Linked DNA regions of Homo sapiens. The protein of the gene in region 2 purifies or fractionates together with the protein of the main gene of each other region. This does not show direct contact. Each region holds a gene or a part of one and is shown on either strand. Other genes may lie near its edges. The genes, in order: PCDH7, RBPJL and BORA.

Region 1 (3,656 bases), on a different chromosome or scaffold from region 2:
CCATTAATACTGAAGATGAAATTACCAGAATTTAAGCAACACAATTGCACTTTATGGCTAGATGAGTAGTCTGAAAACACGGACCCAACAAATTTGTTACTCAAAGGTCAACTGCTACATTTAGATCAGCCACAGTGCATCGCATCTCATTTTGTCATTACCTATAGATCAAGGCTAACATGAATCACAGCCAGTAGATGACAAATGGTCATATAAACTCTGACTTTCAAGTGTTGGTCACATACAAAATCAGGAAAGATCCGTTACATTATCATGACCCTTGCTTTTGACAGGCCTTAAAAACTTGGTTCTAAAAAAGAATTAAAAGTCGTTTTTTGGAACTCTTTCTCAGTATACTTTATATTTTATTAACAAGCTCACCTGTTAAGTTTTCCATGACATGTGTGTTTCCTAAAAGGTAACCGATATGTGTTTGTCATATATAATTATCTTTTAATTATTCATCATTTCTTTCTTATTTTAAAGGTGATGAATCCCCATAAACTCATAAAACAGAAACTAACATTAAAAAATGATTATAATGCCAGTGGTGCAAAGTCCTTTTTTAATAAAGCTGACATCCAAAAAATAAAGATTTAATTGTACATTCTGTGCTTTACAGTAAGAATAAGCACTTTTAAAAACACAAACAAAATTATATGTTCTCATGAACAGGTAATCTCAGATGTAGTAATACCCCTAAATTAAATTAATCCTGCCTTCCTAGGTATGCTCTATTTATCATCTATCTATATTAAAAATACTGTAATTACATACATATGTACATATAAGTAATTATATGTACTATATACATATTATATATTACATATATCACACATACGTAATTACACGTTACACATATGTAACGTAATACACTATAGTACATGTGACTACATACATGCAATTACATGTGGCTACATACATGTAATTACATAATTATCTTTTAATTATTCATCACTTATTTCTTATTTTAAAGGTGATGAATCCCCATAAACTCATAAAACAGAAACTAACATTGAAAAATGATTATAATGCCAGGGGTACAAAGTCCTTTTTTAATAAAGCTGACATCCAAATTACATATGTAATTACATAGTATGTATGTAATTACAGTATTTTTAGTTTAATTTCTTTTTCCAAATAATTTTAAACATATCTGCCTTAAATATATATTCATCAGCATTGCAATTCATACCAAAATTATATGCCCATTAAAAAAATTACTAAAAAAAATGTAACTCTTAGAAACCACACCAGACTCCCATCCACATAAGCACACACCACCATACACACAGATAAGCATGCTTTTATAGCCATAAGGCAAAATGCCATTTTAACTCTGCAAAATTAATCAAGAGGGACGTCAATCATCAGACCCTGATATCATATTTTCTTAACCAAGAACAATGTGGATAAATAATTATTTAGCATAATATAATTTAGCAATACTTTCATTTGGGGTCCTTTATAATATATTATATTCTAATATTGGATTTTAATATTCATAGGTAAACTTACAGAAGAAAATCAGTCTTTCTCCTGCATTAATATGCTCTACTTGCATATATATCAGCACTAAAGAAACGGATATATAACAAAAAGTTAGAGCGTCTTATGTCACTCGGGGGTTGAGATGGCAAAAGACATAAATCCACTGCAAGTTTTACTAGGGATAAAATGTGTGTGATTCCTTTCCTTTCTCTCTGTTTAACCATCTCTCTCTTCATATTTGAAAGAATAATGAAGTTAGGATGAATTTTACCATTCCATTATTTGACACAAACCTATTCCTCAGGCATTTACTTATGACTCAAAATCCAGAAAATAAATCACCAAATTATCTCTGGGAATATAAACAAATGTGGAAAGTTTTATAAGTGCTATTTGCAATCTAAATGTATAACTTAAAAGAAAATGTATACAAGGCCAATTGTGGTAATTATGAGAATCACCTCAAAACAGTATAAAAATATGGAGTATTATGATTTATTTTCCTTCCTTTCTCTCACATAAAAATAAAAAAAAACCTTATACTTGAATAGGAGGGAAATTCTAATAGCATTTATTGCATACTATGGAGAACAAAGTAGTACTGTTCTCTTTTGACCCTATTCAGTGATCATAGGAAAGGAGAGGTTTGAAAATGCTTTTCTAAACATCTAGGACAAGAAAAGGTAGAGCAAGGTATGTTTCTTTCATTTCCTTTCACTAAGACTGGACAGCTGCAATTGAAGAAATAGTTGCATGACAAAAATGAATAGAAGAAAACAATTAGACAAGACCTTTCTTGGTGACTATTGTTTAGGAATTCTGCACTTATTTAGCTTCCTTCATAGTGGGCCCTGTTCTGATTTATTTATAAGTGCGTTTATTTCTGACAGGATGTTTTAAAATGATGGTGCAATTTGGGTGAATTTTATCTACAGAGTTATGTTCCTTTATTTGGCATTTCTGTATTTTAGCAAATATTTATCACTTAAAATAAAATGGTTTTAATGTCAGCTATTTTATTTTGGTTTTAGACTGACCTTCGCGAGTCTACTTATTACGGCTCACTAGCGTGATTATGTGTGTGGATGTTGTGTTTGCCCCTACCATTTTCCATATGCTCTGCCTCACCAACACTGCCATCCGGCGTGGTCCTTTCATAGTTGTCCTCTGGGAGTGGAAGCGCACCCAGTCTTGGCCCTGATGAACTCTTACTGCTTGGTGTTTCTGACTCCTCCAGCCCGCTGTCATAGCAACTCTGCAGTGACCCCTGATGTGGGTCCTGAGGCTGACTCACAACAGAAAACGTCACTCTACGAAATGGCTGCAAAAGAAAAGATTCTGAATGTCACTACGATGTAAGATTGTAAATGATCTTATTTTAAAAAATACATAAATTACATACATTAAGGTCTACTGGCAACTAATTCAATACAAAATGAATAGATATGTTGAAACTGCATTAGTTAACTATGTATTATCTAAGGCAATGTCTAGAGCTTAGATTTTATTATGGAAAAACTGGAAATTCCCTTTCAGAAACAGAGATAAAAAAACAGTAATTTCACTAAAACATACATTTAAATCTGATATGTTAGTTCCACATATTCAACCTTTTTCTATTCTATAGTATTCACTTCAGATATGCTTTCCAGAAATGGCCTCTAAAAAAACAAGGTCAGTGATTTGTGAAGGCAGTAAATATTGAACTAATCCATTGTAAGAAGACTCAATTTTTAAATACTTTGTCCATATCATACAAAGCTATAAAATCAAATGGGTTGGCAGTTGACTTAAACTGTTCAAAGTACAGCTGACAAATAGGAATTTAGATGCAGTGCTAGGAAACACAAATATGTTTATTACATCATTCCTATAAAAATATTGCCTATGGACCTTGAAATTGTAAGAGTCATATTGCAATAATAGATAAAAGTATCCCTAAACAGTGAGTAGGAAATAAACTATAAAGTTTAATTGTATGTTCTTAATATTACTGTTTGTGATTCGTTCAATAAAGTAAAATCATGTACAGCCTTTAATTTGTTTTTAAAAAATTTTATGAAACTATCCAGTTGAACTCCACAATTTACTATGTTACTGACAATGGCTGGACTGAAGATTTACTATGGAAGGTATTTGCAGATTATCTTGGTTAACCACAAAAT
Region 2 (3,656 bases):
CGGGGCTACCGGGCGCGCCTAAGTCTGGATGAAGAGGTGGAAGTTGGTGCGCGTGAACTCCTGATGGATGCTCTCCAGGAGCGCGTCGGCGTCGGTGGCGGGCTCGGGGACGCCGGGGTGACCCGGCCGCACGCTGTATTCCGGGGTGTAGGTGAAGGAGAAGGCACTAGGGTAGAAGAGCCCGTCGGCGCGCACCAGGCTCATGGGGATTGTGATGGGAGCGCGCAGCCAGCGCCAGTCGCTGCAGAAGGCCGCCACGTCCGGCACCACGCACACCAGGGACCGCGGGCTCCTGGGGGTGGAGCACCAGGGTGAGGGCTGCGGCGACTCCGACGACGCGTGCACCCCCTTCCCCTGCTCCCCGGGGCCCAAGAGAGGCTGCCTCACCACCCCGTACCTGTACATGGTTTCTGCCTCCACGTCCCCAAACCACACCTTGAGCCCCGCGTGGAAGTTCTCTCCGTGGAGCTCCAGCGTGGCCACGTCGCCCCCGCCGCTCAGCTGGGGGAGGGTGGGACCAGGTGAGGTGAGAGAACCAAGTAGGGCGGGAACCCGCTGCCCCCCACTCACTAGCACCACCACTGCCCAGTGCAGGCAGGGTCCCCCTGCCCAACGCCCCTAGCGCCCGGCTTCACCTCTAGGGTGCTGATGAGAGGCACCGGAGTGACCGGCTCCAGGGTACACGCCAGGCTGGTGCTGAAGGAAAATTCCACCGACTCGGTGCCGATGATGGTCCAGCAAGAGCTGTCGTTAAGCAGAGCCCTGTTCGCCTCCTTGGGGCAGGGAGAGGCCTGGGAGGAGACCCAAGGGGACGAGGCCGAAGCTTCTCATGGTGGCCACCAGTGTAGGGAGCCAGCATGGCGCGTGGGCTTCTGCGTTAGACCGAACTGGATACTAATCCTAGGCTCTGGGGTTCACTTGTCCCCTCAGCTTGGACAGTGCCCTTAAGTTCTCTCACTTAGCGTTAAGAAAGCTTGTTGAGCTAGCTGATTTCTTCTTTCTTCTTTCTTCTTTCTTTTTTCTTTATTTTCCTTCCTTCCTTCCTTTTCTTTTTCTTTCCCTTTCTCTCTCTTTTTTCCTTTCTTTCTTTTTCTTTCTTTCCTTCCTTCCTTTTCTTTCTTTCCCTTTCTCTTTTTCTTTTCTTTCTCTTTCTTTTCTTTCTTTCTTTCTTTTTCTTTCTCTCTCTCTCTTTCTCTCTTCTTCCTTCCTTCCTTCCTTTCTTCCTTTTTTTTTTTTTGAGACTGAATCTCGCTCTGTCGCCCAGGCTGGAGTGCAATGGCCTGATCTTGGCTCATTGCAACCTCCGCCTCCCGGGTTCAAATGATTCTCCTGCCTCAGGCGCCCGGGTAGCTGGGATTACAGGTGCCAGCCACCACGCCCAAATAATTTTTTTGTATTTTTAGTAGAGACAGGGTTTCACCATGTTGGCCAGGCTGGTCTCAAACTCCTGGCCTCGTGATCCTCCTGCCTCAGCCTCCCAAAGTATTGTGACTACAGGCATGAGCCATTGGCCCGGCCTGGGATAGCTGATTTCTAAGGGTCTTTTTTCTTGGGATTCCAGAATTTTTTTTTTTTTAACATTGTGCAATTCTATGCTCTAATAATCTACAATTTTAATATTCTTTGGGAAGGAATATTCTTGGGGAAGGAATAATACTTGCTATTTTCCACATATTATAATTCTATCTCGTAACATTCTATGATAATATTCTTTTGGGAGTACTACTGCTTAACGATAATTATTATTTTCCACATTCTATAATTTTCCACATTCTGTGTCTTTATCTGTGCTTCGAATAGTCTTTGCTCATTAATTCTCTGCTCTCTATTACCTATCATGATTTTTATTTACATCCTACAATTTTATATCCCAATTTATTTACTTACTTTTTTTGAGATGGAGTCTTGCTCTTGTCACCCAGGCTGGAGTGCAATGGTGTGATCCTGGCTCACTGCAACCTCCACCTCTCAGGTTCAAGCAATTCTCCTGCCTCAGCCTCCTGAGTAGCTGAGATTACAGGCGCCCACTGCCATGCCCAGCTAATTTTTGTATTTTTAGTAGAGATGGGATTTCACCATGTTGGCCAGTCTAGTCTCGAACTCCTGACCTCAGGTGTTCTGCCCACCTCAGCCTCGCAAAGTGCTGGGATTACAGGCATGAGCCACCGCACCTGGCTATATCCCAATATTTTATGACTCTAAAATTCTTTGGGAAGGAATATTGCTTCATACTATTACTTATTACTATTTTTCTACATCCTATGATTCTGTCCTGGGAGTCTATGATTTTAATGTTCCATGGGAGGCTGCTCAGGAAGTAGCAACCATGGTGAGGGTGATGATCTTACATTCTGTGGTTCTCTGCATTCTCCCTTTCCAGGACACTTGGTGCTGGTATTCTCTGCTTCTTACCTGAAATTGCACCACCTTCTCTGTGGCAAGGCATAAGTAGGTGCCACCCCCTCCTGGGGGACTGCCTGGAAACTGGAATGCACACTTGTGCAGCTGGGAGATGGGCTCATCCACATCAAGGAGCGCACACTGTTTTGCTACTTTACGGATGATCTGCAATGGAAGGATGGTAAGAACAGTGGTGGCAAGGAGCCCGGGCGTCCAGAGGCTGCCCTCCTAGCCGGCTGTCTGCTACTCCAATAGCCACACAGGCACTAGCAGATTCCCCCTGCCCTTTGACTTCTGTCTGGTCCTACGCGACACTGGGTGAGAACAGGTGTCTCCATGCCTTGGGGCCTCACTCTCCAGCCCTGCCCGTGTGTGCCACATTCTCTGCATGGATCTGAGGGGACCCCTCCAGGCATGCCCTCCCTTCCTATACCATGGGAGGTAGTGTGATGCCGGTGACCGTGCAGACGAGCTGCACCAGGGAGCCATAGCGAACGTAGCCCTCTCGCGGTGGGAAGTCTCCTTGGGCAGAGTGCCCATCAGCTGGGGGACAAAAAAAGCAAGGGACAAGGTTTTCAGCGGCCCCCAAGCTTCTGCCTTAAACCCTGCCTTGTTGCCTCTGGCTCTTCCTCACATCACACATGGGCCCTGCGGGAAAGCTTGGTACTCAGGGGAGCCAACTGAAGGTTCTAATTCTGGAGAGGCCATTTGAGGCCATCCTCACAAATGTCTGCCCTGGGGGCAGGGGTTGGGGGCAGGCAGCTTAGTTGATATATGGGGAAAGGGCATGGATAAGGGAGTCAGAATAGCTTGGAACAGTCACCAGCTCACTGGGACTGTAGTCAAGTCTTTTTGTGTTTCTGAGCCTTAATCACATGGGGCAGAGTTTACCTTCCTTAAGGAGTTGTGGTGGAGGTTAAATAAGCTAATGCATGTGAAGTGCCCAGCTCCAGGGCCTGCAGATGTCATTACCCAGGTGGAGCGTGAAGGCAGCCCACTGTCGTGCACTGGCCACAAAGGCCCCATCCTCCACAGAGAGGTAGCGTGTGGAGACCGTCTGAGAGCGCAGGCGGTTGAAGAGGGAGACCTTTGAGCCGGAGGATATGCACACTGTGAGGGTGAGGGTCAGGGTTAGGGTGAGGGTGAGGGTCAGGGTTAGGGTGAGGGGATAGGGTTAGGGTTAGGATTGGGGTTAGGGTTAGGGTGAGGGTTAGGGTGAGGGTGAGGGTTAGGATTAGGGTGAGGGTTAGAGTGAG
Region 3 (3,656 bases), on a different chromosome or scaffold from region 2:
ATCCTTCCCTGAGTTTTAACTTCAGCATGCCAAAACTGACAACACTAAAGCCTTATAGAGTTGGTGTGAGAATTAAATGAATTAATAAAGTGGTTAGAAGAGTGCCTGGTATATCAAAACACTATGTGCGTATTAGCTATTATTATAAGTCAGTATTAACTTTTGGATTAAAGAACATGGACTCTAAAGCCAGACTGCTGGGATCAAATCTCAGCTCTTCCACTTACTAGTTGTATAGAAACTTTAGGTAATTTACTTAACCTCTCTGACCCTCAGTTTCCTCATCTGTAAAACAGGGATAACAGTACACATACCTCACAGGATTGCTGTAAAAATTCAACAAAGTAAAACATGTAAAGGTCTCAGAATAGGACTTGGCACATAGTAATGCTACGTTAGTGTTAGATGTTATTGCTATCCCCTTCTGACTAAAGTCAGAACTTCTAAAGAAGTTCCTTCAAAATTCTCAGCTCAAAGAACACAACAATGAATGGAACAAATGCCTTTCCAAAGTGCTAATTATGAAGTATACGTATCTGTTAAATGAATCAGGTTTTCCTGTTGTCAGAGACATTGCAAAATTGGAAATGTATAATTTCATGAAAAATGTTGCTATAAATCATGTTTCTAAAAGAAAAGCACAAAAATGCATACATAAAAGAACTCTAAGGCCAGGCGCGGTGGCTCATGCCTATAATCCCAGCACTTTGGGAGGCTGAGGTGGGCGGATCAACTGAGGTCATGAGTTCGAGACCAGCCTGGCCAACATAGCTAAATCCTATCTCTACAAAAATACAAAAATTAGCCAGGTGTGGTGACGCACACCTGTAGTCCCAGCTACTCAGGAGGCTGAGGCAGGAGAATTGCTTGAACCCAGAAGGTGGAGGTTGCACTGAGCCAAGATCACACCACTGCACTCCAGCCTGGGTGACAGAGTGAGACCCCATCTCAAAAAAAAAACCAGTGCTCTAAACTCTTTTTATCCCCCCTAAATCACATAAAGGAAAAACAAAAATGATTTTATTTTTAGAATGCAAATACTATACCAGACCTTGCATGTTTTGGGGGACTGGATCCACATGAAACAGTGATGAATCCTGCCTGACTCTAGCAGGATTGATTTCTCTAGAGCAGGCTAATTTCTTTTCTGCTCTTACCTTTTCCTACTCCATACAAATATCAGTTAATGTGAATATAAAATATGCCTTATCTGTCATAATTAAAATAAATTTACTCTTCTCATATCACTTGGTATTAATATTTTTAAAAAATATTATATAATACTGTAGTCCTCATGTTTAATCCATTATCTTTCTTATACTATAATCTTAGAAAGGATAAAGAACACCAAGGCAGTGAGGAAGGGGCTATAGAATATTAAATACCTTACCTGAATGTTACTGCTTTCACAAGGAATGACACTGCTTTCAGCAAGAGGTGACATGCACATATGAGAGTTTTCAATACTGAAGGCAATGCCACTTACAAAATCAGTCATGGGTAAACTGCCATTATCAACCGGCTCCTTAATCCAAGTGGTCTCATCTGCTATCTCTATAGGATCAACCATATCCACAGTGTTATTGTCTTTCTCCCTTTCAACATCCTGCAACAGTGCTAATTCTTTCTCAGAAGCACTGGACTGATTTTGTGTAACAGACATGGCAGTCACAACCAAATGTGTACCATGGGTAGAAGCCTCATTACTAAACTGCCGTAGGTGTATTCCAGCAGCATCCATGGCGGGTGATGAGACATCTGTGGAAGGAATATTCTCTTTATCTTCCTCATCTTCACCTTGAGTCTCAAGAGTAAAAGGTATCTGAATCACTGAGGTCCGATACTGAGTACCACCACTATACATCTGAAGTCTCATAGGAGACCAATTTTTAATTGGCGAGCAGCCATCTATATAAGGACTTCTGATACACGGATTAGTTATCCCATTAGAATTTGTTCCAGATGAAGCATCAGGAGAATGAACAGTAAACTTCCTTTGTTCTGAAAGGTGGGAAGGGAAAAAAAATCACATCATAAAAACATGAAAATGGAAAAGTCACTACTAAATGGTAATCATGTTTCATGCCAGGAAAAACTGCATTTCTGTAACAGTTGTGTTGTTTACCAAAGTGAAATTGTGATGTCAAAAACAATAGCACAAATGGAAATTGCTAAATTTCCTTTGATAGTGTTTGATGTAAATATTGCTAATTAAAGTAACTATATTTAACACTACAGTACAAACTGGTGAGAATTCCAGCCTTTGAAGGTAAACTGTTCTTTTATTTAAAAATCAAAGTTCCTAAATGTTAGAAGGTTAGTGATCATTTTGAGCTCTATCATTAAGACAAATTAAAAGAACCTCTCTAATAACAAATATTGATAGTATAAAACTTTTAACTAGGTATTTTATTATGAGACATACCTGAGAGTGGAGTCTCTCCTATCTGAAATTCAATTGGTGAGAAAGTGGGTGAAGAAATAGGCGAAGGACTAGTTATGCTTCCCAAGCTGTATTTTTTTGCACTAGCCTGAATAGGGCTAGAAGAAAACTGCCCCTGTAATAAAATTAAATAGTAAATAAATGTATATGGTTCTCTTCCTTAACTCTTATGCTGCATGCTATTTATCATGGTCTTCAAAACACACTTATAAACTAGTAATAGTTCACGAGAACCACCAAAAGACACCTTGCAACAAAGACAACTAAGAAGATTGCTACAAAAATTCTGAAATAGTATCAAATATGTTAGTCAAAATATAAACACATTGTATTTGAACAAACCATTAAGTTTCACACTAAGCAACCATCTGTGAAAAATTTTTAAATTTATTAATGCCAAGCCAGTTGTATTATACTGTAAATCTCACACACTTTAGTAAATAACCTATGCTGAATTTCCTTGAGACTCATGATAAATCTGGTCATCCTGTACATATCTAAATACAAAATTGAAGAGTCTGACCTAAAACATCCCTATGACTAATGATAACATACGAACTAGAGTTAGTTTCTGTGAAGCATAATACTCAAAAGACAACCATCCCTCCTTCTGAAAGCAATCTGGGCAGCTCACAGGGGTGTCCAAGGGAGAGAATACAGTCATGAGTTCTTAGTTTCTGTTTCTGGTTAGGCCAGTAAAGGCCCTTCCTCATCCCTCTTTTCCACTTATTTACTAGAGACAGAAAGCAACCATGGCTTCAGGCTGCTGAAAGCCTAAGATAGAACAACAACAAAATGTGGGTTCAAGCTTGACAGCATATTAGCCAACTGCTTTTTAGTATACTTCTCACCGAACTTGGTGTCTGCAAGGGGCTCCTACACTTTACAGGAGACAAATCTATTGAATAAAACATCTCTAGTGATGTTTGAACACCACTGTGAGGACTTCCGGGAGAAGCCGAAGGTAAGGAGTCGGAGATGCTTCCGTTCCCATCTAAAAACAGCTTTCTTCTGAGGGATGAAGAACTGAGGTTTCCAGGAGATTGATCTGCAAATTCATCAGCTCTAAAATAGTCACCTATATTTAATAATAGGAGAAAAGGCAAAGCTAGTCATTTTAAAGGGCAATTATACTTCTGTTACTCAACTTTTAAGAAGCCAGCATGCACTATGTTTGAATTTTTTCCCAAAAAGAGGGCAAAGTTTAATTGCA

Evidence for each region.
Region 1: the proteins of RBPJL (region 2) and PCDH7 purify together in Homo sapiens (affinity purification with mass spectrometry; one large-scale study listed by BioGRID and IntAct). This does not show direct contact.
Region 3: the proteins of RBPJL (region 2) and BORA purify together in Homo sapiens (affinity purification with mass spectrometry; one large-scale study listed by BioGRID and IntAct). This does not show direct contact.

What each region holds. Positions count from the first base shown.
Region 1 is NC_000004.12:30,919,309-30,922,964, reverse strand, and holds part of PCDH7 (protocadherin-7 isoform d precursor), read right to left. Parts: intron 2,813-3,656; coding exon 2,596-2,812; intron 1-2,595.
Region 2 is NC_000020.11:45,313,322-45,316,977, reverse strand, and holds part of RBPJL (recombining binding protein suppressor of hairless-like protein), read right to left. Parts: intron 3,511-3,656; coding exon 3,373-3,510; intron 2,944-3,372; coding exon 2,834-2,943; intron 2,566-2,833; coding exon 2,413-2,565; intron 792-2,412; coding exon 636-791; intron 502-635; coding exon 398-501; coding exon of another isoform or gene 388-397; intron 293-387; coding exon 19-292; 3' UTR 1-18. UniProt on the Homo sapiens protein: Putative transcription factor, which cooperates with EBNA2 to activate transcription.
Region 3 is NC_000013.11:72,744,846-72,748,501, reverse strand, and holds part of BORA (protein aurora borealis), read right to left. Parts: intron 3,522-3,656; coding exon 3,295-3,521; intron 2,559-3,294; coding exon 2,426-2,558; intron 2,002-2,425; coding exon 1,391-2,001; intron 1-1,390. UniProt on the Homo sapiens protein: Required for the activation of AURKA at the onset of mitosis.